7 linked regions of the Homo sapiens genome follow. The protein of the gene in region 5 purifies or fractionates together with the protein of the main gene of each other region. This does not show direct contact. Each region holds a gene or a part of one and is shown on either strand. Other genes may lie near its edges.

The links.
Region 1: the proteins of ABCE1 (region 5) and TIMM23 purify together in Homo sapiens (affinity purification with mass spectrometry, with the first as the bait; one study listed by BioGRID). This does not show direct contact.
Region 2: the proteins of ABCE1 (region 5) and CPVL purify together in Homo sapiens (affinity purification with mass spectrometry, with the first as the bait; one study listed by BioGRID). This does not show direct contact.
Region 3: the proteins of ABCE1 (region 5) and ASNS purify together in Homo sapiens (affinity purification with mass spectrometry, with the first as the bait; one study listed by BioGRID). This does not show direct contact.
Region 4: the proteins of ABCE1 (region 5) and SRP9 purify together in Homo sapiens (affinity purification with mass spectrometry; 2 studies listed by BioGRID and IntAct, with this or other methods). This does not show direct contact.
Region 6: the proteins of ABCE1 (region 5) and TBCD purify together in Homo sapiens (affinity purification with mass spectrometry, with the first as the bait; one study listed by BioGRID). This does not show direct contact.
Region 7: the proteins of ABCE1 (region 5) and RP2 purify together in Homo sapiens (affinity purification with mass spectrometry, with the first as the bait; one study listed by BioGRID). This does not show direct contact.

The regions. Positions count from the first base shown.
Region 1 is NC_000010.11:45,996,489-45,999,988, forward strand, and holds part of TIMM23 (mitochondrial import inner membrane translocase subunit Tim23), read left to right. Parts: intron 1-3,500. UniProt on the Homo sapiens protein: Essential component of the TIM23 complex, a complex that mediates the translocation of transit peptide-containing proteins across the mitochondrial inner membrane.
Region 2 is NC_000007.14:29,070,038-29,073,537, reverse strand, and holds part of CPVL (probable serine carboxypeptidase CPVL isoform b precursor), read left to right. Parts: intron 1-1,072; coding exon of another isoform or gene 1,073-1,114; coding exon 1,115-1,237; intron 1,238-1,633; coding exon 1,634-1,765; intron 1,766-3,500. UniProt on the Homo sapiens protein: May be involved in the digestion of phagocytosed particles in the lysosome, participation in an inflammatory protease cascade, and trimming of peptides for antigen presentation.
Region 3 is NC_000007.14:97,851,177-97,855,408, reverse strand, and holds the end of ASNS (asparagine synthetase [glutamine-hydrolyzing]), read left to right. Parts: coding exon 1-56; intron 57-654; exon of another isoform or gene 655-728; coding exon 729-829; intron 830-2,022; coding exon 2,023-2,104; intron 2,105-2,193; coding exon 2,194-2,349; intron 2,350-2,940; coding exon 2,941-3,150; 3' UTR 3,151-3,732; downstream 3,733-4,232.
Region 4 is NC_000001.11:225,780,826-225,784,325, forward strand, and holds part of SRP9 (signal recognition particle 9 kDa protein), read left to right. Parts: intron 1-2,474; coding exon 2,475-2,543; intron 2,544-3,500. UniProt on the Homo sapiens protein: Component of the signal recognition particle (SRP) complex, a ribonucleoprotein complex that mediates the cotranslational targeting of secretory and membrane proteins to the endoplasmic reticulum (ER).
Region 5 is NC_000004.12:145,101,311-145,104,810, reverse strand, and holds part of ABCE1 (ATP-binding cassette sub-family E member 1), read right to left. Parts: intron 426-3,500; 5' UTR 399-425; coding exon 296-398; intron 1-295. UniProt on the Homo sapiens protein: Nucleoside-triphosphatase (NTPase) involved in ribosome recycling by mediating ribosome disassembly. Able to hydrolyze ATP, GTP, UTP and CTP. Splits ribosomes into free 60S subunits and tRNA- and mRNA-bound 40S subunits.
Region 6 is NC_000017.11:82,765,565-82,769,064, forward strand, and holds part of TBCD (tubulin-specific chaperone D), read left to right. Parts: intron 1-702; coding exon 703-804; intron 805-2,855; coding exon 2,856-3,002; intron 3,003-3,500.
Region 7 is NC_000023.11:46,850,543-46,854,042, forward strand, and holds part of RP2 (protein XRP2), read left to right. Parts: intron 1-2,933; coding exon 2,934-3,500. UniProt on the Homo sapiens protein: Acts as a GTPase-activating protein (GAP) involved in trafficking between the Golgi and the ciliary membrane.

The sequences.
Region 1 (3,500 bases), on a different chromosome or scaffold from region 5:
GTGGTGCATTTTAAATGAAACAAGTTCCATTAAGTGCTTATTGCTGAAGGTATAATTCAGTGAATGTTCTTTCCTTTTCTTAGAGCAGAGTTTGGTATTTTATTTTCACCTAAGCCATTTTGGTTCAGTTCTTAAGGCTTTGATTATTTTTTTAAGTTGAATGGTGTTTAGTGTGCCCATGTTCATAACAGCATATTATTCACAACAGCCATACAGGCTGGGTGTGGTAGCTCATGTCTATAATCCCAGCACTTTGGGAAGCCAATGTGGGCAGATTGAGTCCAGGAGTGTAAGGGCAATATGGTGAAACCCTGTCTATACAAAAAATTAGCCGGGCTTGGTGGTGGGCACCTGTAGTCCCAATTACTGGGAAGGCTGAGATGGGAGAATCACCTGAGCCCAGGAGGTCAAAGCTGCAGTGTGCCTTCATTGTGCCACTGCACTTTAGCCTGGACGACAGAGTGAGACCCTGTGTCAAACAAAAAAAAAAAAAAAAAGATAGATTCTAAGAGGCCAAGGCAGGCAAATGGGCAGATTGCTTGAGCCCAGGAATTGGAGACTAGCCTGGACAACATAGCTACTAAAAATACAAAAAATGAGCTAAGCATGGTGGTACATGCTACTCCCGAGGCTGAGGTGGGAAGATCACTTGAGCTTGGGGAGGTCAAGGCTGCAGTGAGCCGTGATCATGCCACTGCACTCCAGCCTAGGTGACCCTGTCTCCAAAAAAGAAAAATGTGGTATATACATAGAATAGAATATTATTCTGCCTTTAAAAAGGAAATTCTGACAGATGGTAAGACATGGATGAACTCTGAGTACATTATGCTAAATAGGCCATCTATAAAAAAAAATGGTGTGATTCTACTAATGTGAGGTACTTAGAATAGTCAGATTCATGTGAGGTACTTAGAATAGTCAGATTCATACAGAAAAAAAGTAGAATGGAAGACGGCTGGGATGGGGTGTAGTTATTGCTAAATGGGCAGAGAGTTTCAGTTTTGCAAGATGAAAAGAGTCCTCTGAAGATAGATGTTGGTACACAGAGCACCGTGGCTCACGCCTGTAGTCTCAACACTTTGGGAGGCTGAGGCAGGAGGATTGTTTGAGCCCAGGAGTTCAAGACCACTCTAGGTAATATAGGGAGACCTCATCTCTACAAAAAATTTAGCCCGGTATGGTGGTGCATGATTGTAGTCCTACCTACTTAGGAGGTTGTTGTGGGAGGATCACTTGAGCTCAGAAGGTCGAGGCTGCAGTGAGCCTTTACCAAACCACTGCACTCCAGCCTGGGCGACAGAGCAAGACCCTGTCTCAGAAGAAAAAATAAAGGAAAAGTAGATGTTGGTAATAGCACAGCCGTGTGAATGTACTTAATGCCTCTGAAATGTACACTTAAAAATGGTTAAGGTGGTAAAATTTATGTTACATGTATTGTACCATAATTCTTAAAAGAATAAAGTTTTTTTAAAATTTTAAGACAGCTGCTGACAGTCCTCAACAATGGCATTTAGTAGTCATGTTAGTATGTAGGTAAGGCTGTTCCTATAGAACAGGAGCCACCAACTCCTGCTGGCCAGCTGCCTGTTTATTTGCTGTGAGAAGGCTAAGAATGTGTTTTACGTTTTTTAGTTACGTTTTAAATGGTTATATAAGTACCTACATAACAATAGCCTTTGACCCTCAAAGCCCAAAATGTTTACTATCTGGCCCTTTTAAAAAAGATACATGTTAATCTGTGCTTTAAAGTCATTGTCATTTGAATGCATTAGTTCTGCCACTAATCAACCCTATATCCCACAAACAAGGCACTTAAATATTCTGGGCCTCATTTTCTCATGTATAGAAGAGGTGGTGCTTGCCTATCGCTTTGGAAGAACTACATAAGGATCCCAAAATACAGGAGGTAAAACTGAAACACAAGTCATATTTGCTTTGCTTTATAGAGATTGACCATTGGCCTTATTTGGTTACTCTGTTCAAAGCAAGTACCTTTGCTTATCAACTTCCTGTGCTTAGTTGTGTAGAGTTGTTTGAGTAAAGAAACCCTAGAGACCCTTAAACTTGCAAACACATCAACCAATTGGGAAACCCTGGAATTAACGGAAACAGTTACAATTAGAACATGGCTGGTATGTGGTAAAAGGCCACCCTTGAGTAAAGATGCTATGTGATAAGTACAAACACCAATGTTTAGTGTCTTGTTGGAGTTGATTTTTTTTCTCTCTGGCTTTTAAGAAGTAACTTCATCGATTTGAACTAAGTTTTTGATTCATTTGGCAAGAAAATAGAAAGCTTTTGGGGGAGTAAATTATTTAATATGTTACTGGTGTCCCAAATATCTTTTTTTTTTTTTTTTTTTGAGACAGAGTCTTGCTGTATCGCCGAGGCTAGAGTGCAGTGATGCAATCTTTGCTCACTGCAACCTCCACCCACCAGGTTCAAGCAATTCTTTTGCTTCAGCCTCCCACATAGCTGGGATTACAGGTGCCTGCCACCACACCTGGCTAATTTGTGTATATTTAATAGAGATGGGGTTTCACCATGTTGGCCAGGCTGGTCTTGAACTCCTGACCTCAAGTGATTTGCCCACCTTGGCCTTCCAAAGTGCTGGGATTACAGGCCGTGAGCCACCATGCCAGGCCTTTTTAAAATTTTTTTTTATTTTTTGAGACCAGGTCTGGCTTTGTTGCCCAGGCTGAAGTACAGTGGCACGATCTTGGCTCACTGCAACCTCCACCTCCTAGGCTCAAGCAATCCTCTCACCTCATCCTCCCAAATATCTGGGACTACAGATGCATGCCACCATGCCTAGCTAATTCTTTACATTTTTTTGTACAGATGGGTATCGGGGAACCTGCCCCGATAGTCGCGTACATTCTTTTCTATTTTCCTTAAGCGTCAGCCAGCTTGAGAAATAAAGGGACAGGGTACAAAAGAGAGAAATTTTAAAGCTGGGCATCCGGGGGAGACATCACATGTCGGTAGGTTCCATGATGCCCCACAAGCCGCAAAAACCAGCAAGTTTTTATTAGGGATTTTCAAAAGAGGAGGGAGTGTGCGAATAGGTGTGGGTCAGAGACATCAAGTACTTCACAAGGTAATAGAATATCACAAGGCAAATGGAGGCAGGGCGAGATCATAGGACTACAGGACCAGGGCGAAATTAAAATTGCTAATGAAGTTTCGGGCACCATTGTCATTGATAACATCTTATCAGGAGACAAGGTTTTGAGAGCAACCGGTCTGACCAAAATTTATTAGGCAGGAATTTCCTCTTCCTAATAAGCCTGGGAGCGCTATGGGAGACTGGGGTGTATTTCACCCCTACAGTCTACAGACCATAAAAGATGGCCACACCCAGGGGGGCCATCTATAGACCTATACCCCCAGGCGCGTATTCTCTTTCCCAGGGATGTTCCTTGCTGAGAAAAAGAATTCAGCGATATTTCTCCCATTTGCTTTTGAAGGAAGAACAGTATGGCTCTGTTCCACCTGGC
Region 2 (3,500 bases), on a different chromosome or scaffold from region 5:
ATGGGCTGGAAAGGAATGAGCGAGAGGGTGGCAGGGGTTGAGGGTAGAGAAGGGAGCAGATCATGTCAGCCCTTATGCCTTTGCTTTTGGGAAGATGGGAAGTCATTAAAGGATAAGGGCAAAAGAAGGAGGCCAATGAGGAGTCTACTGCAGTCATCCAGGCCAGAGATGATGTGATGGAGAAGGGGTTGTGAGAAGACATTGGACTCTGGACAGATTTTGTTAGAATAGGTAGAGCTGACAAGCTTGGCTGATTGACTTCTGTGGAATACGAGACAAAGAGAGATATAACGAATGGCACCAAGATTGTTGGCCTGAGCAGGGGAGAAACAGAATTAACATGAGATGAAAGGGAGGCTGCCTCAGGGTTGGGGATTGGGAGCTTTATTTTGAACATGTGCAGTTTAATATTAGACATACAAGTGGAGATATCAAGAAGGCAACTTTTGATGGAAAGAATGCAAAATGCAAAATTATTTGAAAAATACTGCTGAGTCAATAGTAGCTCTTCCAGCACAGTCTTAAAGTAGAACCGTTACCATGTTTGTTAGGGGAAATATATCTACAAAATATTCTGACCTTGAAAAAGGACCTTGTGCTGGAAAAGTTTGGAAATAGAGATGAGTTCAAGTGAAAATTTTAGTGGCCAATAAATATTATTTTCCTTTTCTGCTTCTCCTATTCCTTTAGTACATGTTGATTTCAAAATTTGCAGCATTATCAGATTTTGAAATCTTAATTTTAAACTTGAGATTTTTTTCCCTCTAATCTTTGAATAGAGCTTTCTGGTAAGAGATGCCTAACACATGGCAGAATTGTGTTCTCCCAAGTTATTTTATTTTGGAAGGAAATTAGAATGTTCACTTATTACATGTTCACTTGTGATTTTTTGTGCATCGAACCTGTTCATGTCATGTGGTGCTATTTGAGACGACAAAAGAATTGGAAGACAGAGGTTTTTGCTATTATGGAATCTATAATGTGGGGTTAAGAAACAGATGGTATACCTCATGTGGAAAGATTGCTCCTTCATTGTTATTTTAATTAGCTTAAGTACATTTAATTTTACTAGCATCCATTTGTGATTGGCCATTTCAACATCTGTCCTTCTCAGTCTTATGCAGGGAAATATGTGCCAGCCATTGCACACCTCATCCATTCCCTCAACCCTGTGAGAGAGGTGAAGATCAACCTGAACGGAATTGCTATTGGAGATGGATATTCTGATCCCGAATCAGTAGGTTTCTCCTTCTGACTTTCTATTTTGTCTCTTAGGGGGATTAAATGCCTTTTTATCAGATGGAAGGCTCCTCTTAGAGGTCTAACTTTTGATAAGGGAAACACCAGTTGACTTTATGACTTAAATCTCCTAATTTTTACCAAATGTTTCAACGTATCAATTTACTGTGTCAGCTTACATTGGCTGTCAGTGCAAATGTGTGTGTGTTTGTATTGTGTTGTGTTCTGTTGTGTGTGTTGTGGGGTGTATATGTGTGTGTGCATGTAATTATCCTACTTGGCTAACCAGCACAATATTAACAATTACAAAGGATTATTTCACCAAGCAAATGGGCTTCCTTAAGGTCTCTTTCTCTCCCTTTGTCACATTGATGTGTGTCTTTTTTGTCCTCAGATTATAGGGGGCTATGCAGAATTCCTGTACCAAATTGGCTTGTTGGATGAGAAGCAAAAAAAGTACTTCCAGAAGCAGTGCCATGAATGCATAGAACACATCAGGAAGCAGAACTGGTTTGAGGCCTTTGAAGTGAGTTCTGGGGGCCCTGTGCTGCCCTTGAGCAATTAAAACCATCTGGGGAGGGAGGGCGGGTGAGCAGGAACACCTTGGTGCTCAGGCATTTTTTTGTTAAGAAGGTATATCTGTTATTCCATTGGAGATCGGGAGGCGAGTTGAGTGGCCTCATAATGAAGAAAAGGACTGTCTGTGTTCCTTTGAATTTACTTTGGCTATATTTTAAGCCTGAGATCATCTTGGAGTGTTTATCTAACTGTGTCTTTCATTAACCGTTTTGATTTCTTTAAATGCTGTGGAGGCCCTCAAGGCAGACTCTATCATATGGAAATCAGAAGAAAGGCAACCCAGGAAGTAGAGGCATATGCTTCACCATCTGCTCTAAACCATGTAGAAGAGTTTTATATCCACAAACAGGGTTTCAGCTGGGAGAAATGACCACAGTGTGTAACAGATGACATGTGACACACGTGTCAGGAACAAAGATTATAAAGTGTAGTAATTTGAAACTCTTACAAAGGGCCATTGGTATTTGTGCATATCCTTTCATTGCTCCCCTAAAATTAAACTTGAGAATCAATAATTACGTTCTTCACTCTTTTCTTTCTCAGTTATTTAAAATGTAAGAATATACTAAATATTAGGATACAGGAAGTTGGGTTTTTTTTGTTTTTTTTTGCTTTTTTTGCCAATGCAGACAGAGCCATGTGTAAACAATCTCCCTGAGGGGCTTTTTGCCGTATTTACTATACAGCCATCATGTTTGACATGGTAGTAAATGAGGCAAGGTCTGAATTTCGAGGGCTTTAATTTGTTTGTTATTAGACACATATTCTGTAACAGTATATCTAATGTCGTTATTGTTATTAAAGCAGAAATCTGATATTAAGTCTTAAGGGCATTGCAGATCAGCCAGTTCAGATCAAAATAGGAGACATGCAACCTTGGAGAAAAGGGTAGAGGATAATACAAAGTTATTTTTCATTTTACAAGTAGGGTGTTGGGACACTATCAGAAATCCCCCAAGGCAGTGACCGCCCTTGCCGTGAATTCTGATAGCAGCTAGCTGTGCAAATGGATGGAGCAAAGGGAGTCCTGAGCCATCCTACAGAGCTCCACCAGGCTCTCCTTTCTCTGTGTCAGGACACTAAATGTGGCTGCAAAGTGTGGATTCAGAATTTCTTATGCAATTGTAAACACAAAGGAAGAGGGGTCTCCTGGGGCACATGTAGGATCATGCTTCCACTTGCAATGACAGTATTTTCAAGGCTTTCTGCTGTGGTAGTCACAGAGGGGACGAAGGAGTGAAACTTCAGTATTTAGAATTAATACCAAATTTTATGTGGCATGAGACCAATTTGCAATTGAAACATTTGATATGTTTTTAAAGAAGCACACAGGATAAAGCAATTGTCAAGAGCAAGAGCATTTGAGAGGCCCATATTTAGAAAAAAAGCAGAAAGATGACTGGTACATAATGCAGCAGGCTAAACACCTACAGGATTAGTGAAGCTGTAGAAAAGTTCAGGTGTGTTGTGTATTCAGAGATAATGAGAACATGACCCACGAGGTGAGAATCTCTCCCAAACCGGATACGTCAGAAACCGGAACCCCAAGCAGGTAAAACGTTTGAAGGCTTGGAATGTCTTTTTGACCATTGGTCCCGTATCTTGAGTGATGAATTAAAACAAGACCTTTGCTTTTTCAAGGAAAATAGATAAAATGATACTTAGGACAGTAAACAACTTGT
Region 3 (4,232 bases), on a different chromosome or scaffold from region 5:
TCTTCTCTGGAGAAGGATCAGATGAACTTACGCAGGGTTACATATATTTTCACAAGGTAACCACTCTGAAGTGGAGGGATATTCATGCTATATTAAGAAAAGTATGAATTGTTTGACTATTTTCTATCATCTTTCAGTATGACAGTGATATTTTTGAGTATCTTGTGAGGTTACAAAAGGGAATCTGATAGTGTTTGCTTTCTATCTCTTGGGGAAGAAAGAAATTTTAATGTGTCAGATAATTTTTATTCTTTAAAACTAGTTACAGCTGGGTATGAGGGCTCATGCTCATACCCCCAGCTGCTGAGGAGGCTGAGGTGGGAGGATCACCTGAACCCAGGAGATTGAGGCTGCAGTGAGCTGTGATTGCACCACTGCACTCCTGCCTGGTTGACAGAGTAAGACCCCGTCTCTTAAAAAAAAAAAAAAAAAAGTTAAAAATAAATAAATAAAACTACTTAAGCTTGAGAATCCCCTTTCTGCCATTTCTTAGCATCCTGTGGAATTATGACTGTTGCCCATTGTGTTCATTTTATTCTAATATTAGCAGTTTGGTAGGAAGGAAGGCATGTTTTGTGAAGCATTGCTTACCTCTGTTCAGTTATTTACTCCCTTCCCTAAATTTGTTTAACTTTTTGTCTTATCCACCTTTAGGATTGGAGAGGGAGAAAGAAAAACTGCTTTGTGTGCCAAAAGCAAAACTCTTGGTGTTTTTGTTTGTGAAATAGGCTCCTTCTCCTGAAAAAGCCGAGGAGGAGAGTGAGAGGCTTCTGAGGGAACTCTATTTGTTTGATGTTCTCCGCGCAGATCGAACTACTGCTGCCCATGGGTAATATTTTTAGAGGCTATTGTAAAACAAAAACAAAAAAACACCAAAAACAAAACAAAACAAAAAGCTCAATACCCTGAGAAAATAAAAATCAATAGCTGATTGGCTATATGTTACATATAGTTGGCTATATGTTACAAAGTGTGACTTTTATAGAGAAAATGAAGCTGTTTCTTAACTTTGTCCCAAAAGGATTAGGCCACATTTCAAAGTGGTGTTGTGGTATATGGAGAGAAGTCTTCTTCCATAGGTTGTTTGAGGTGGAGTTTTCACCTTTAAAGGGTAACAACATTCTGCTCACATCTGAACAACCAAGATGGAAGAGGCAAGGCTGCTACAGCAGCTACCGTTAAGTGTTTTAAAGAGAAGTAAAGATCGTAAACATCATGTGACAAGTAGTGAGTGCCCACCATGCCCATGTGGTGCTGTAGTGACCCTGAGGGAATAGAGTAGTGAAGATACAAGGGGTTTGATTACATTATAAAGAACCAGGTTTCTTTGGTTATCATTTCTAGTTGTCTAAAGTTATGTTGAAGAACTGAAGACTTTTACTGTACAGGATAAACAACTGACATTAAATGTCTTAGTTGCCTCTGCTGAATCACACCTAGATAAGGATATAATTAAATATGGGTTTGAGGAATGAACTGAATCTGGTCATTATCCTCTCTGCTTGTCCTAACTAGAGTCACTAGGCTTCAGGAAACCGGTGATTTGGAATTTGATGAAATATAGTGGGACACTGGTTTATATCGCATATTGTATGTGAATTTTTAATCAGTGGCAAAAAAATACTGTATCGTCATCACAATTGTTAGAAGAGATGGTCTCACCTAGTAAACACTGAGTTAGGTCTAGGCAAGGTATTTTCTTAATGATTGGGTCACTCATGTTTTGTAACTTTTTCTGCTTTTTGAAATATGCATTTAACTATTCCTAGAAGGGAAAGTAAAAGTAATAGTCTCAGTTAGTTTTACTCCCTAGATGACATGATATATGTATTATTTTAAATGAAGATTTATTTTTTGTATCTATTCATTAGTGTAGGGCAGTCATTAGGAGGCTTGTATGTGACTGTATGACCTTAACATTTCTTAAGATCTGGTTGAATTGATGGGAAACTGAATCAGAACCTAACCTGGCAGGCACTAAATACCCATTTTAATTTAGATTTTCTTCTTTTCTCCTTTAAGTCTTGAACTGAGAGTCCCATTTCTAGATCATCGATTTTCTTCCTATTACTTGTCTCTGCCACCAGAAATGAGAATTCCAAAGGTAGGTAAATCAACTCAAGGTAAAACTGTCCATTGCCATCAGATTATATTTGTAATTTTTACCTGATGCTCCTTTTTTTGTCACGTCAGAATGGGATAGAAAAACATCTCCTGAGAGAGACGTTTGAGGATTCCAATCTGATACCCAAAGAGATTCTCTGGCGACCAAAAGAAGCCTTCAGTGATGGAATAACTTCAGTTAAGAATTCCTGGTTTAAGATTTTACAGGAATACGTTGAACATCAGGTATAATGTCTTTAAAAACATTTTCAGGAATAAGACAGTTTGGATGCAGAGCTGTCATTGCTGTTCATTTTGTATTTAGTTTGAATGATACATGTATTTAGTTTGAATGATACATGTATTTAGTTTGAATGATACATACATCAGATATCTCTCTGATAGGATGTCCCTATCAGAGAGATTCAGAGTCTCTGTAAACAATTATCTCTTTTGTAAGAATTACGTAAGAATTAAGTAGCATGAAGGATTATAAAGTAGCATCTAGAATCGAGAGAGAGAGGAGACTTACTACTAATCATCACTGATTTTCATTTATCAGATTTTTGGGCACCTGCTGGGTGCCAGATCTTGTTAGGCACAAATGACTAAAACAGAGCCACCAAGTATTAAAAATATGCATATGAGTGTTCTTTAAAAGGCACTGCAGCTATCCATATTATGAATACTTTAGCATTTTCTAAGTGATGGGTGATTCAAAGGGTCTCATACAAGTTACAGTCACGTCTTAACATTTTCTGTTTCGTGAAATGAGACTAAACACAAGTATTTCCTGCCATTTTAAGCCATTTTGCTCTTATATGCTTATTCTTACAGGTTGATGATGCAATGATGGCAAATGCAGCCCAGAAATTTCCCTTCAATACTCCTAAAACCAAAGAAGGATATTACTACCGTCAAGTCTTTGAACGCCATTACCCAGGCCGGGCTGACTGGCTGAGCCATTACTGGATGCCCAAGTGGATCAATGCCACTGACCCTTCTGCCCGCACGCTGACCCACTACAAGTCAGCTGTCAAAGCTTAGGTGGTCTTTATGCTGTAATGTGAAAGCAAATATTTCTTCGTGTTGGATGGGGACTGTGGGTAGATAGGGGAACAATGAGAGTCAACTCAGGCTAACTTGGGTGTGAAAAAAATAAAAGTCCTAAATCTAAACCATTGCTGTAGTCATTTATGTTCATGCAGTCTCTTCATAAGAGGTAACTAGAACTGTTTTGCTGTATCACAGTAAAGTGGAGGGTAAGCTAGGAAAAGGGAAAATGATCAGATGTCTGCAAGAACTCACAGCCCTCTCCTGGCAGAGCTGCTTTAGATGACATTTGCATCTTGTGCCCGTGTGGCTTCCTTCCAGTCCTTGCCTCATCTTAGGGACGTCATCAAAGGACTACACTATTTTTGTTCTGCCTACATTCCTAACAGCTGCCTAGGCAGACTCAGACTTGAATCTTCTATAGGAGTTCATCACAGCTCTATTTTGCAAGATAGTAGTTCATTTTTTTCTCTTTTATGTTGAGCCAAAGCCACTTCTGGAGACTTGTCCTAGAGCAGGGGTCAGGCTTTTTTTGAATTTTTAATTTGTTTTTAATAAAGAGCCAGATAGTAAATATTTTAGGCTTTGTGGACCTCTTTTGGAACTGTTCAGCTCTGCCATTATAGTGCAAAAGCAGTTACATAGGCAATATGTAAACAAACGAGCGTGGCCATGTTCTATTAAAAGTTACTTATGAAAGCAGATGGTGGGCCAGATACGGCCTGTGGGCCATAGTTAGTTGATTGCTGTTCTAGAGGAACAACTAAGCTAACTAAGCATTTCTGATGAAAGTCTAAACCTTTGTCAGATGAGTAGATTGCAAAAATTCTCTCCCATTCTGTAGGTTGCCTGTTCACTCTGATGGTAGTTTCTTTTGCTGTGCAGAAGCTCTTGAGTTTAATTAGATCCCATTTGTCAATTTTGGCTTTTGTTGCCATTGCTTTTGGTGTTTTAGACATGAAGTCCTTGCCCATGCCTATGTCCTGAATGGTAATGCCTAGGTTTTCTTCTAGGGTTTTTATGGTTTTAGGTCTAACATTTAAGTCTTTAATCCATCTTGAATTAATTTTTGTATA
Region 4 (3,500 bases), on a different chromosome or scaffold from region 5:
TGAAGATGGCATTACCACTGGATTATGTAATAACCTCTTTGTTGGTCTGTCAGCCTTTTTAGTTCCTTAACACTCTTGCCACAACTGTCTAAAAAACAAAAGTTGAATTCTTCATCTCCTGCTTAAAAACTGGCTCTTTGATAACTGGATATAGTCCCAACTCCCAGTCACAGTCTGACCCATCTCCAGTCTTTCTGGCTTTGTCTCACCATTTTCATGATCTTCAGCTCTAGTCTCATGAAGCTACCGGATTGTATCCTTGTTCAGAATGATTTTTAGCCTTTCTTCTGCCTTCTTCTATAAGGTTAAAACAAAAAAAGCATTTCAAAGCCACCTCCTTTTTTAGACTTTCCTTTTTCCCAGTCTAAGTTACTTGTTTTCTCTCTTTAGCATTTTATCTGTATATCCCTTTATAGGACTTAATTCATTCTGTCCTTGTGTTTTGGTTATTTTTGGTAAAGAACCTTGATTTTTCTTTCTTTATGGCATCTGACATGGTGACTTGGCACCCTCTAAATTACCAAATGGACCCTTTTATAAACACGATTGGCCTTTTTTCTTTTCTTTTTCTTTTTTTTTTTTTTTTTTTTTGAGACAGAGTTTTGCTTTTGTTGTCCAGGCTGGAGTGCAGTGGTGCAATCTCAGCTCACTGCAACCTCCGCCTCCCGAGTTCAAGCGATTCTCCTGCCTCAGCCTCCCGAGTAGCTGGGATTACAGACACCCACCACCATGCCCAGCTAATTTTTGTATTTTTAGTAGAGACGGGGTTTCACCATGTTGGCCAGACTGGTCTCGAACTCCTGACCTCGTGAGTGAACTCCTGCCCTCCCAAAGTGCTGGGATTATAGGCATGAGCCACTGCACCCAGCCATGATTGGCCTTTTAACTCTCATTTCTCCTAAATGAAACCAGTGAGTGTTCCTTTAACTGAGAGTTAAAACTTCACATAGTTGTCATGCTTAGTATATTTTTAAGTGTTTCGTTTCTAGAGAACTGAATTTTTAAAATGTGTAAAACTGAATTTACTAGATAAATAAATAGAATCAGGTATTCTAAAGATAATTAACCTAGTTACTACTATTTATACCTGCTTAAATGCTTGATGAGTTCCCTTTCCTCCTTCACTCAGACAAATCGCATATAGTGATGTAACTTTTTTTTTTCAGTCTCAGGAATGCAAAGACCGTAATGGGGAAAGCTGTAGGTTGCAGTTCCATTAGCCCTTTTTATTTAGTTTCCAGAATTGTCTTGAGGCCTCTGGTGCTAGATTGTAACCATTTTAAAATTATGTTTCTGTTCTGGCTTGTAGATAAGTAGCAGTTTTTATTTTATTTTATTTTATTTATTTATTTTTTTTGAAATGGAGTCTCGCTCTGTCCCCAGGCTGGAGTGCAATGGTGCGATCTCGGCTCACTGCAAGCTCCACCTCCCTGGTTCACACCATTCTCTTGCCTCAGCCTCCCGATTAGCTGGGACTGCAGGCACTCATCACCACGCCCGGCTAATTTTTTGTATTTTTTAGTAGAGACGGGGTTTCACCGTGTTAGCCAGGATGGTCTCAATCTCCTGACTTTATGATCCACCCGCCTTGGCCTCCCAAAGTGCTGAGATTACAGGCGTGAGCCACCGCGCCTGGCCGATACTTAGCAGTTTTTAAAACAGCTAGCTAAACAAGAGTTACTGATACTGGTTAGGGAAAAACTGCGATACACTGTGCTTGAATCCATCACTGAAAAAAAATAATGTTCGTGGAAGTGTTCTTGGGAGATGTCTTATAGGAATATGCTAATATCTAAATGCCTTGGCAATCTGTAGAATATTGAACATAAAGTATTGTGTAACATGGAACTTCAGTATAGGAGTTATTCTGGTTTTTGGAAAAGTTGTTGGTGGAGACTTCAAGGCAGAATTCTGCTTTTATGTAATAATGCGTTATGTTCTACCTTCGTGATAAAGACCTGATTTTGCTGAATATTTTAGTCTGAATCTGCTTGCTAAGATTTGTGGAAAAATGGAAAGTGTGAGTTGCACTGACCTGCAGCACTGTTTGCTAATGAATGGATTTGGACTTTTTAACTAGCCATTTCTGCTAAATGTTTTCCTCCCTTTCCTGTCATTCCTCTGTGGCTAGGTGTGTTGGTGTATATTCTTATTGGCAAGAAATGCCACCTTATAAGTCTCACAGACATTCCCTGAATGTGGATGTGTTTTGAGAATGTTCAGTACATCTCTTCAAACTGGCTGCAAATAAAATATCCAACTTTTTAAGTCTTAAATAAATGGTAGCAAAGGAATGAACTAAAATAGCTGATTTTTTTTTTAACTTCATTTCGGTTTAGTTTATAGTAAAAATGCCTTTAGATGTTTGGGGGTATTTATTCTAAAAGGATCCTTTTCAGCCTACCTGAAGACTAAATTATTTATAAGAAATGTCATTTGTCTTCACTGTTTCTAAATATGTATTTTTGTTTCAGGCACGTGTGGTTCTCAAATATAGGCATTCTGATGGGAACTTGTGTGTTAAAGTAACAGATGATTTAGTTGTAAGTATACATTTTTATTTGTTACATACTTTCAGATTTGTTTGAGTTAATTATTTGTTTGAAATTATTTACTTAGAGTTTATGGAGATTACCCATTAGGATGCTTATTTTGCATTTCATTTAAAGATGAAGAACCTCATTCTAGCAGCTACTTTTATAGACCCTCAGGAAATTATTTAACCTGCTTTCTTAATGCATTATGTCAAGTGTCTTTAATAAGTGCTGTCTTCAGACCTTAAGCAACAGAAATGTAGAGACCAAATTGGATGTAAGGGAGTAAAAGTTTCCTTTAAATGACAGTGTTTGAACACAACTTACAGGCTTTATTGTATTTCCTGTCTTTGATATGCTCATTCTTGTTACTTCCTCATATCCCATTCATTCCTTAACCCTCTGCCATTTGTTTTCTGCATATGGTACTCCAGCGAAACTGCTCTTTGTGAGAGCACATCAGCAGCTCCTTTCTTTTCAAACCCAGTGGTCTTATTATTCATATGTTATTTGACCTCCTTGCTGCTTTTGATACAGAAGCCCACTCTTTCATAGAAATAATTATTTTGGCACTTGTGGTTCTGTTTTATCTTGGCCTTACTATTCTGTGTTTCTGTTGTTTCATTCTTCTTTGCTGATTGTTTTTTTTTTGATGTGCCCCATATATATGTGCTTCTCTAGGATTCTGTCCTTGATTGTCTTTTCATAACAGCTTCTGGAGCAGTTCATTTAACTGAGTCTAATACTGCATCTGTCTATGTCTACTTGCAAATGTGTGTTTAGTTCATATTCTTCTGACTTTCTGACTAGCATCTGTATCTCACATACCCTCAAAATTCACTTATCTACAGTGGAGTTTATCACCTGTTCTTTTTTTTTTTTTTTTTTTTTTTTTTTTTTTTTTTGAGACGGAGTCTTGCTCTGTCGCCCAGGCTGGAGTGCAGTGGTGTGATCTCGGCTCACTGC
Region 5 (3,500 bases):
TATAAGATTTTGTAGATTTCAAGATCAGTAAGCTGAACTCTGCTTTGAGTTCACATCCAATACACTTTTAAATATTGATGTATTATTCTAAAATTTGGTCTTTCTTTAAAAAATATGATCCTTCAGTCACAAAGCAATAAAAGAAATTTAGAACAAACTACTTTTCTTGTCTTCACAGTTTTATGAAACTAATGGTGAACACAAAGTTTATGTTAATGTCCGTAAAGAATTATCAAACCAGTTGATTTCTTTCATGGTTTTCTTTTATACTTAAATGATCCACAGAACAGCTTACCCATTCGAACTACAGGACAACTCTTTTTGCATTCCTGTCGACATTTCTTAGGTTTACATTTGTCATGGTTGACAATAGCAATTCTCGTTAACTTGTCTGCCATAACTGGGCGAAAGAATATCCAGCTCTTCTATGAAAGAAAAATCAACAAATTTAATGCCATTAGTTAAGGGAACTAATTTGCATACATGAAAGACAGGAAAACATAAATGATCATTATATGGAGATGAAATGATTATCTGCAAAAAAAAAATATAAATTTTGACAAATGTAAAAATTGTAAAATAATCTATAATCTAGTAAGGTTGGGAAAATCAAATTTTACATATATACTTTAATCAGAAGATTTATATAAGGAAAGAAAAAAATGTCATTTACAATAGCGACAAAAAGAAAATATCTAGGAATATACTCAACAAGATATATACACAAGAAAACTTTAAAACAACACCAAATGATATAAATGACCTGAACAAATGACATGCTATCTCAGTTTTTATAATAAAGAATAGTTAATATCACAGATTTAAACCCTTCCTGAATTTATATATTTAATTCAATCTCATGAGAAAAAACAAACAAAAGAACCCCAGACATGTGGTGGTGTGCGCCTGCGGTCCCAGCTATTCCGGAGGCTGAGGTGGGAGGATTACCTGAGCCTAGGAGGTGGAGGTTACAGTGAGCTGAGATCACACTACTGCACTCCAGCCTGGATGAGAGTCAGACCCAGTCTCAAAAAAAAAAAAAAACCCCAACCAACCCAGACAAAGCAAATCTAAAGCTCTAATGGAAAAAGAATTATTAATAGCCAGGAAAACTGAAAAAGGGGAAGCAGGATGGGGGAAATCCCACAAGCTCTTCCCCCAAACTAAGCATTACTTCACGTCGTGTACATCTGACTATAATGACACTGACAGAAATGGCAAATAATCATAATAGCAATGAAATTAAAAGGAGACCAAATAACTATATGTATATACTATGCTCACTTTTAAAGCTTTTATAAGTCTTGATATTCCAATTTAATCAACTACACAGCATTAAGATCAAAGTTAACTTAAAAATCTTTCACAATATTGGGCTTAGTGGTTCAGAAATTAATTTCCTTAGAATGGTGATTAAAGTAAAAAATTCCAAAAGGTGCCTTAATACTCAAGTTTATTCCAATATGTAATGAATGAATCTGAAACCAAGATTATCCATTTAGAAAGAGATCATGTTGTCTTTTTCTTACTGTGATAATCAATCTTGATTTTATTTTATTTTTTTTAATAGACTGCTTCCCTTTGTAGACATCTCAAGTCTTTTTCACACCCATCAATATCATTAGGCTTGGATGGGGATAAGAGATCTTGCTCCTCGACGCTGTCCTAGACTATTATCTCTCCCTCCTCCCTAAAAAGTTTTGCATCTCAACTATCTAACTGCTTTAGTTAGTAGTGACCACCAGATCACTCCCTTTCATTCTTTGAAGATTTCAGCCCCTGTTAACTTTCACACACTCTTTTACAACTCCTGACATAGTTCTCGATTTCAATATGCTCACAGATGACCCTCCTGTCCTCTCATTTAACCCCTCTCCTCAAACAGCTTGTCTTCTACCTTACCACAGCCATTCATTTTTTCTGGTTACATCCTAGACCTTATCATTACCAGTAATTGCAATCCTTCTATAACCTCAACTTCAAATACTCCATTCTCCAACCACCATTCTTATCTTTTTAGTTCACCCCCTACTACACAACAATCCAACAACTCTGATTCCTCCATTCTTCAAACCTTTCATTATCTCTTGATTCTATCATATTTCCACTGTCCCTCAGCTCTTGGTGTTTTTATTTTCCTTCTCACCCAGCTAAAATACCCTAAATCACAATCTTGGTTAAATTCGACTCTTCACCTGCACACATAGAGCTGAAAATGGTAGGTGAAAAAAAAACACAAAACCTGCTGACTAGTCTCCCTTTAAATTCATCATCTCAAATGGACCCTTATGCCAACCAGCAATGACACTGTATGTATTTCCCTGGCTAAGACCATTTGTACACTAGAAGACATTCCATAAGAATGTCCCAACAATTCTCCCTTCTGTCTTTAACTTCATCAATTATTCTCTCCACTGGCTCATTCTTATCAGCATTCAGGCATTCTATTATCTGACCCCATCGTCTCCCATTGTTTTATTTTTCCTTCTTCAAGACTACTTCAAAGAGTTGCTTATACTCAATGTCTCAAATTTCTTGCTACATGCTCTCTGGAATCCATTCTAGGCTCTAGAGCCCATCATTTAATCAAAACTTTTCGAGCCATCATTGTTCTTCACATGGCTAAAACAAATGGTTATCAGACCTTAATTCACCTGACCAATCAATTGCATCTGACACAAATAAACACTTTTCCTACTAGATAAAAACCCTTTCTTAACTTGGTTTTAGGATACAACACTAATCTGGTTTTTCTACTGTTTTCCTGGTCACTCATCTTCATCTCCCAGGCTTCTAAATGCAGAGTGCTCTAAGACTTGGTCATTTTTTTCCACATATACTCATTCCCCAAGTTGTTCTATTCTGGTCTCACAGGTTTAAATTCCATTTATATACTGCAAATTTCCAAATTTCTATCTTTAGTCAGCATACCTCTCTTGAACCCTTCCTGCCCACCTAACATCTCTGGAAGGCTTAAGAGGAATCTCCCAACTAAGCTCCTGATATCCTCACCAAAATTTCAGCAGTCTTGCCCATTTTGTTAGATGGCAACTCCAGTCTTCCATTTGCTCAGGCCCAAATCCTTGAAGTCATTTTCTTTTCCACCTAATAACAGCAAATCCCACTGAAGCTATAAAACATCCAGAATCTGATCTCATGAGTTTGGTGTAAGCTATCACTATCATCTCTTACCAGCATCACTCAAATAGCTTCCTAACAGATCTCTTTGCTTTTACCCTCACCTCTTTCTACTCTAACCCTCAACAGTTCATTCTCAACACAGGAACCATAGGAAGCCTTTTAAAGAGTAAGCTAGATCATGTCACTCCTCTATTTAAAATCCTGCAATGGCTTCATTCTCAATCTGAGTAAATGCCAAAGTCCTGAAAATAATCAATGAGGCATTGATCAGCCTCTGTTAACTTTCTGATCTCATCTCCAACTACTCTAGCTCTTGTATGGCTCCAGCTACATTGGCTCTTTGTTGTTCCTAGCACATG
Region 6 (3,500 bases), on a different chromosome or scaffold from region 5:
GTCCTTGGCCAGCGAGAGGACACTGCGGGTGAGCTGCCAAGGACACGCAGGCCTCTGTAGCTCCTCTGTTTGAGGTTAGGATTTCTCCGGAAGGCGTGGTATCACTGAGCTTCAGGGAAGTGTTAATGAATTTGGGCCCTTGCGGTTTGTAGGCACTTATTCCTCATAAATGTCAGAGGACAGTCATATAAATGAACATATTTAATGACTGATTCCGTAAATATGGTAATGAATAACACTACCAATTTAGGAAGGAAATCTTTTTTTTTGAGAGATGGGGTCTTGCTCTGTCACTCAGGCTAGAGTGCAGTGATGCAGTCAGCTCACTGCAGCCTCGAACTCTTGGTCTCAAATGATTCTCCCTCCTGCCTCATCCTCTCAGACTACAGGCATGTGCCACCATCCTGTCTAATTTTTAATTTTTTATGTTGCCCAGGCTAGTCTCCAACTCTTGGTCTCAAGCTATTCTTTTGCCTCGGCCTCCCAAAGTGCTGGGATTACGGGTGTGAGCCATCGCTCTTGGCCATGGGTAGCTTTCTTGGGGTGACTACGGTCTTACTAAATTGTGTCACTGTAATGTCACAGAATTCTCTTTGATCAGTGGGTCGCGTAGCTGGTGATTTTTGATGAAAGGGTAGAAAGGCAATTTTGCTGCTCTCTGTATTTTTAAATGTTATAATTCAGCATCTCTTTATTTGATAGGTTCGAGGCTATAAAACATTTCTTCGTTTATTTCCTCATGAAGTTGCCGATGTAGAGCCTGTTTTAGATTTGGTCACAATTCAGAATCCCAAGGACCATGAAGTGAGTGTCTCTGCCTCCCCCCTCGTCTCCAGCCCTCCGTGCCTGTCCTTCCTCCCTGCTTGCCCCACCCTGCTGCACCTTCCCCTTCCTGTTTCTTTCATTTTATCTCCCTTTGTTTTGTGTCACTCCTCTTTTCTTTCTTTTCTTTTCACTTTTCCTTTACTTCTTGTACAAGTTGCTTTAAATTATTTTCGTTTAAAATAGCCCCTTTATAAAAAAAATTATGCCTAGGTGTAGTTTAACAATAAATCCGTCATTGTTTCTATGTTTTTTTAACTGTGTAAGTATAACTGTGTTGGGTTCCCAAGACCACCCCCAGGTTTGATACTTCCTGAGCGGGACTCACAGCACTCAGCATAGAGTCCTCCTTTTGGCTGTCACTTGTTATGGCAAAATAATACACAGCAAAATCAGCAAAGGGAAAAGGCACATGGGTGGGGTCTGGGGAGAACCAGGCGGGAGCTCCCGGGGTCCTCCAGTTGGGTCCCACAGGGCCTGTGTCATTCCCCCAGCAGTGAGATGTGACCACACCTGTGAGGTGTCTATCAGAGAAGCACGTTTGAGACTTGGTGCCCAGAGCTTTCACTGGGGTCTGGCCACATGGACACCTCTGCCTGGCACGAAACGAAATTCCAGACCCCCAGCAGGAAAGCAGGTGCCAGCGTAAAGCACACGGTTTGTGCAGATTGAGCCAGCGAGGGACCTCATCAGGCAGGGCTTGGTGGGAACCCTGCTGGTGTCCAGGTCCCTGGATACCAGCCCAGGGCCGGCCTCGTCAGGGGCCTTGCCTCAGACGGCAGCGGGGCCTGCTATGCTCGCTGTCTTCTGCGTGGTATGTATTTGGAGGAGCACACGGTTTATAACCGTGCAGTGCGGTGGCTTGTCTCGGCGTGGATGTGACTGATGAGCGCTGTGGGGCATTTCCCTGCTGCCCTGCACTCCGTGCCCTTCTTTCCCTAGTACTTCTAGCGCCCCCCAGTGGAATGATTGCAGGGACAAATTGGGATGTTTTTTACTAATTACTGAAAATAAGGGTACTCCTTTTTTATTAGAAGTTGATAATTGTTTTCTTTATTCTTTTTTTTTTAAAAAGACAGAGTTTCACTCTTCTTGCCCAGGTTGGAGAGCAATGGCACAATCTTGGCTCACTGCAACCTCTGTCTCCCAGGTTCAAGCGATTCTCCTGTGTCAGCCTCCTGAGTAGCTGGGATTACAGGCATGTGTCATCACGCCAGGGTAATTTTGTATTTTTAGTAGAAACAGGGTTTCTCCATGTTGGTCAGGCTGGTTTAGGACTCTTGACCTCGGCCAGGCACGGTGGCTCGTGCCTGTAATCCCAGCAGTTTGGGAGGCCAAGGTGGGCGGATCACGAGGTCAGGAGATCGAGACCATCCTGGCTAACACGGTGCAACCCTGTGTCTACAAAAAATACAAAAATTAGCCTAGCATGGTGGCAAACGCCTGTAGTCCCAGCTACTCAGAAGGCTGAGGCAGGAGAATGGCGTGAACCCGGAAGGTGGAGCTTGCAGTGAGCGAGGTTGCGCCACTGCACTCCAGCCTGGGCAACAGAGCGAGACTCCATCTCAAAAAAAAAAAAAGGAACTCCTGACCTCAGGTGATCCGCTCGTCTCGGCCTCCCAAAGTGTTGGGATTACAGGTGTGAACCACCACACCTGGCCTTTTTTCTTTATTCTTAGGTGTTTTTACTTTTTATCTGTTTTTCACTTTTTCAAAAGGCCAGTTTGTATGTGGAGAGGTGCCAGCGAAGAGAAGCTGCTATACTGATGTATTATGATTTTTCTTTGTTCATTTTGATGTCTCTCTTGTCTGCTGAGCTAAGTTACGGCGGTAGGTGTGTGTGGTGGGGATTCCGGGGGGGATGTGGCGAGGAGTTGGTGAACGGCTTGCATTTCTGGCCCTGAGGGTGATGGCATTTGAATGGCTTTCATAGGCATTGGGTGGGCATGGAGGGCAGTGACTTTGAGTAGATTGTGGCCAGTGGCCTGTGATTTTCAAGCAAGACTCATTCTTCCCGTGGTTTAATTTTTTAGGCTTGGGAAACCCGCTACATGCTTTTGCTCTGGCTCTCCGTGACCTGCCTGATCCCTTTTGATTTTTCTCGCCTTGACGGGAACCTCCTCACCCAGCCTGGGCAAGCACGAATGTCCATAATGGACCGTATTCTCCAAATAGCAGAGGTAAATATCATGCAGATAATTAGCTGCTAATTAGTACTCACTTTCATGTTCATGCTGTCTTGATGTTAGTGGTTTACTCGGTAAGCTTCTGATATGTATTCAACTGCTGTTTTTTTCAGTGGGGTAAAATCCCATAGGATAACTTATTTTGAAATTGTGATAATTCATGTAGGGGTCAGGTTGAGTTAGCAAATCTCATTTCTTTGTAGATGATGCAAATACTCTGTTGAGGGTAATCATGGCAGATAAGGAAGGGTTTAGTGGCATGGTGAGAGAGAATAAGGACCCATTTTACATTTAGTTCTTAACGTTATATAAATAATAGATGCTCATTTGTAGGAGAACTAGAAAATAAAGATAAGCAAGAAAAATACTAAATTTAAATTTATGAAATTCTAGTGCCAAGAGATAAGTTGTTTATTTTCTCCGAACTTTTCCTGATGTAAATATTATGCATATAAACACAGCTTATTGTATTAGTTATCTATTGGATCATAA
Region 7 (3,500 bases), on a different chromosome or scaffold from region 5:
CATTCTGATAGCATGTGTAACACCAAACTACTTTCAGTTTTCCTCCTACTCCCTGAAGAATTTTACTTTGTTCCGTCTGTTACTTTTGCCTGGCATGGGAAGGGAGGGTCCTTTATTCCTACCCCTTTTACCTAATGAGCTCTAGCTTATCCATTCTCATGTTTTGCAGAACTTCCGCCCCACTTCTCTTCCCCGCCCCAGATGTCCCTTCTCTGTCCCCTCCAAAATATTCTCAGCATCTCTCATTACATGGTCAAGTTGTTTTTAGTTTAGATGAATGTTTACTTTTATGGAAAGAGCTGGTCCTATTCATTTTAGTGCCTAAAACAATGTCTGGCTCATACTGGGTATTCAAATATTGGTAGAGTGACTGAACATCCAGAAAGTTAAGGGGATTTTTTCAAGATCCGGTTGCTTATAGGGGACAAAATTGGGACTGGAAAATGAGTACTTCTTTTATTGCCTCATACTGCAGACCAGTGTTCCTCCTAGTACAGCATGTAAAACTGGCTAAGTACAATATCTATTGTGCAATTACTAAGTCAATTTAAGCTCATTTGCTAATCATTAAGATGATTAAATTTTGCTTTGTAAATCAAATTTTTACATATTGTATATATGGGAGCCTATGGTGCATGAATGGTTTTGCATGAAGTTTATATAGTCACAAACAGTTAAAACAGTTGAAGTAGATAAGAAAGTCACATGGAAGAAACAAAAATAGGCTTTTAGTGACCATATTTTGATAGGTCAGGTAAAATAAAAAAAATTAATGTGACATTTTCCAGGCATACTGTTTAAAAGATTATGTGGGCCGGGCTCGGTGGCTCACACCTGTAATCCCAGCACTTTGGGAGGCCAAGGCAGGCAGATCATCCAAGGTCAGGAGTTTAAGACCAGCCCGGCTAACATGGTGAAACCCCATCTCTACTAAAAATACAACATTAGCTGGGCATGGTTGCACACGCCTGTAATCCCAGCTACTCAGGAGGCTGAGGCAGGAGAATCACTTGAACCCGGGAGGTGGAGGTTGCAGTGAGCCAAGATTGCGCCATTGCACTCCAGCCTGGGTGACAAGAGTGAAACTCCATCTCAAAAAAAGAAAAAGGCCGGGCACGGTGGCTCACGCCTGTAATCCCAGCACTTTGGGAGGCCGAGGCAGGTGGATCACAAAGCCAGGAGATCGAGACCATCCTGGCTAACATGGTGAAACCCCATCTGTACTAAAAATACAAAAACAGGGGCCAGGCGTGGTGGCTCACGCCTGTAATCCCAGCATTTTGGGAGGCTGAGGCGGGCAGATCACGAGGTCAGGAGATCAAGACCATCCTGGGTAACACAGTGAAACCCCATCTCTACTAAAAAATACAAAAAATTAGCCAGGCATGGTGGCGGGTGCCTGTAGTCCCAGCAACTCGGGAGGCTGAGACAGGAGAGAGCCGAGTTCATGCCACTGCACTCCAGCCTGGGCAACAGGGCGAGACTCCATCTCAGAAAAAAAAATACAAAAACAAAATTAGCCGGGTGTGGTGGCAGGCACCTGTGGTCCCAGCTACTTGGGAGGCTGAGGCGGAGAATGGCCTGAACCCAGGAGGTGGAGCTTGCAGTGAGCTGAGATTGCGCCATTGCATTCCAGCCTGGGCGACAGAGCGAGACTCCGTCTCGAAAGAGAGAGAGAGAAAGGAGGGAGGGAAGGAAGGGAAGGAAGAGAGGAAGGGAGGGAGGGAGGAAGGAAGGAAGGAAGTAGCGAAGGAAGAAAGGAGCGAAAGAAGGAGTGAAGGAAGGAGCGAGCTATAGTTTGGAAGATCTAAGAATAGAAATGGCCAAATTTGAAAAATTGCGTTGTAGCTTAATAAATGCTTGAATCAAATTTGCTTGCATTTACATATTGTGATTCTTGTGCCTTCAGGTTCTTCTGTTTTCTGTAGCATATTGCAGAAATCAGTTGGGGTTTAGAAACTGAGACCATACATTGATTTGAAAAAGGATAGAGAAATATATTTCAGTCTGGGTACATTCCCAATTTCAGAATTTTATTTTATTATTATTATTATTTTTGGGACAGAGTCTCACTGTGTCCCCCAGGCTGGAGTGCAGTGGTGCGATCTCGGCTCACTGCAACCTCCACCTCCGAGGCTCAAGCTATTCTTGTGCCTCAGCCTCCCGAGTAGCTGGGATTACAGACATGCGCCACCACGCCTGGGTAATTTTTGTATTTTTAATAGAGACGGGGTTTCGCCATGTTGGCCAGGCTGGTCTCGAACTCCTGGTCTCATCTGATCCTCCCACCTCGGCCTCCCAAAGTGCTGGGATTAAAAGCAAGAGCCACTGCACCCAGCCTCAGATTTTTTTAGAAATTAGAAGTTTTAAAAATGAAGCATCAAAAAAGAAAAAGTATCAGAAAGCTGAAATAGCAAGGTCATGGTTAAGATCATTAGATACATAGGATATGAGTTGAATTTTTCATAGCGCTTTTATTAAAACAATCATTTAAAAATATATTTTTGACCCTGGTACTCTACAAAGCTTAGTACATTTTTTACTTTTATAAATTCCAAATAGGCTAAAAGCCTACTGACAATATTGACAGTAGCAATGATGATGTAGGTGTCACTTGGGTTAAGTCATGGGAAAACTCAAACCATAGTGTCACAGAGGCTACCCTTTAGCTTTGCATGCCCAGAACACAATTTAATAGCAAAGAGAGGGGATCTGTCTTCTGGGAGGTGTGTATGTTGACTAAGATCATAGGTTTTATATTATTATTGAGAGAAACAATTTGTCCTGTTCATTTTGTTACTGTGTTTCAAAGTCATTGAGATTAAGAATTTATATTTCAGCACTAAGAACTGTGCCTGGCAGCCAATAGTCCTTTAGTTGATACTTGTTGAATAATGTTAATAATACTCAAGGTCTGTGTTTTGTTCCTGCAGGTTGATCCAAAAGACTACATGTTCAGTGGACTGAAGGATGAAACAGTAGGTCGCTTACCTGGGACGGTAGCAGGACAACAGTTTCTCATTCAAGACTGTGAGAACTGTAACATCTATATTTTTGATCACTCTGCTACAGTTACCATTGATGACTGTACTAACTGCATAATTTTTCTGGGACCCGTGAAAGGCAGCGTGTTTTTCCGGAATTGCAGAGATTGCAAGTGCACATTAGCCTGCCAACAATTTCGTGTGCGAGATTGTAGAAAGCTGGAAGTCTTTTTGTGTTGTGCCACTCAACCCATCATTGAGTCTTCCTCAAATATCAAATTTGGATGTTTTCAATGGTACTATCCTGAATTAGCTTTCCAGTTCAAAGATGCAGGGCTAAGTATCTTCAACAATACATGGAGTAACATTCATGACTTTACACCTGTGTCAGGAGAACTCAACTGGAGCCTTCTTCCAGAAGATGCTGTGGTTCAGGACTATGTTCCTATACCTACTACCGAAGAGCTCAAAGCTGTTCGTGTTTCCACAGAAGCCAATAGAAGCATTGTTCCAATA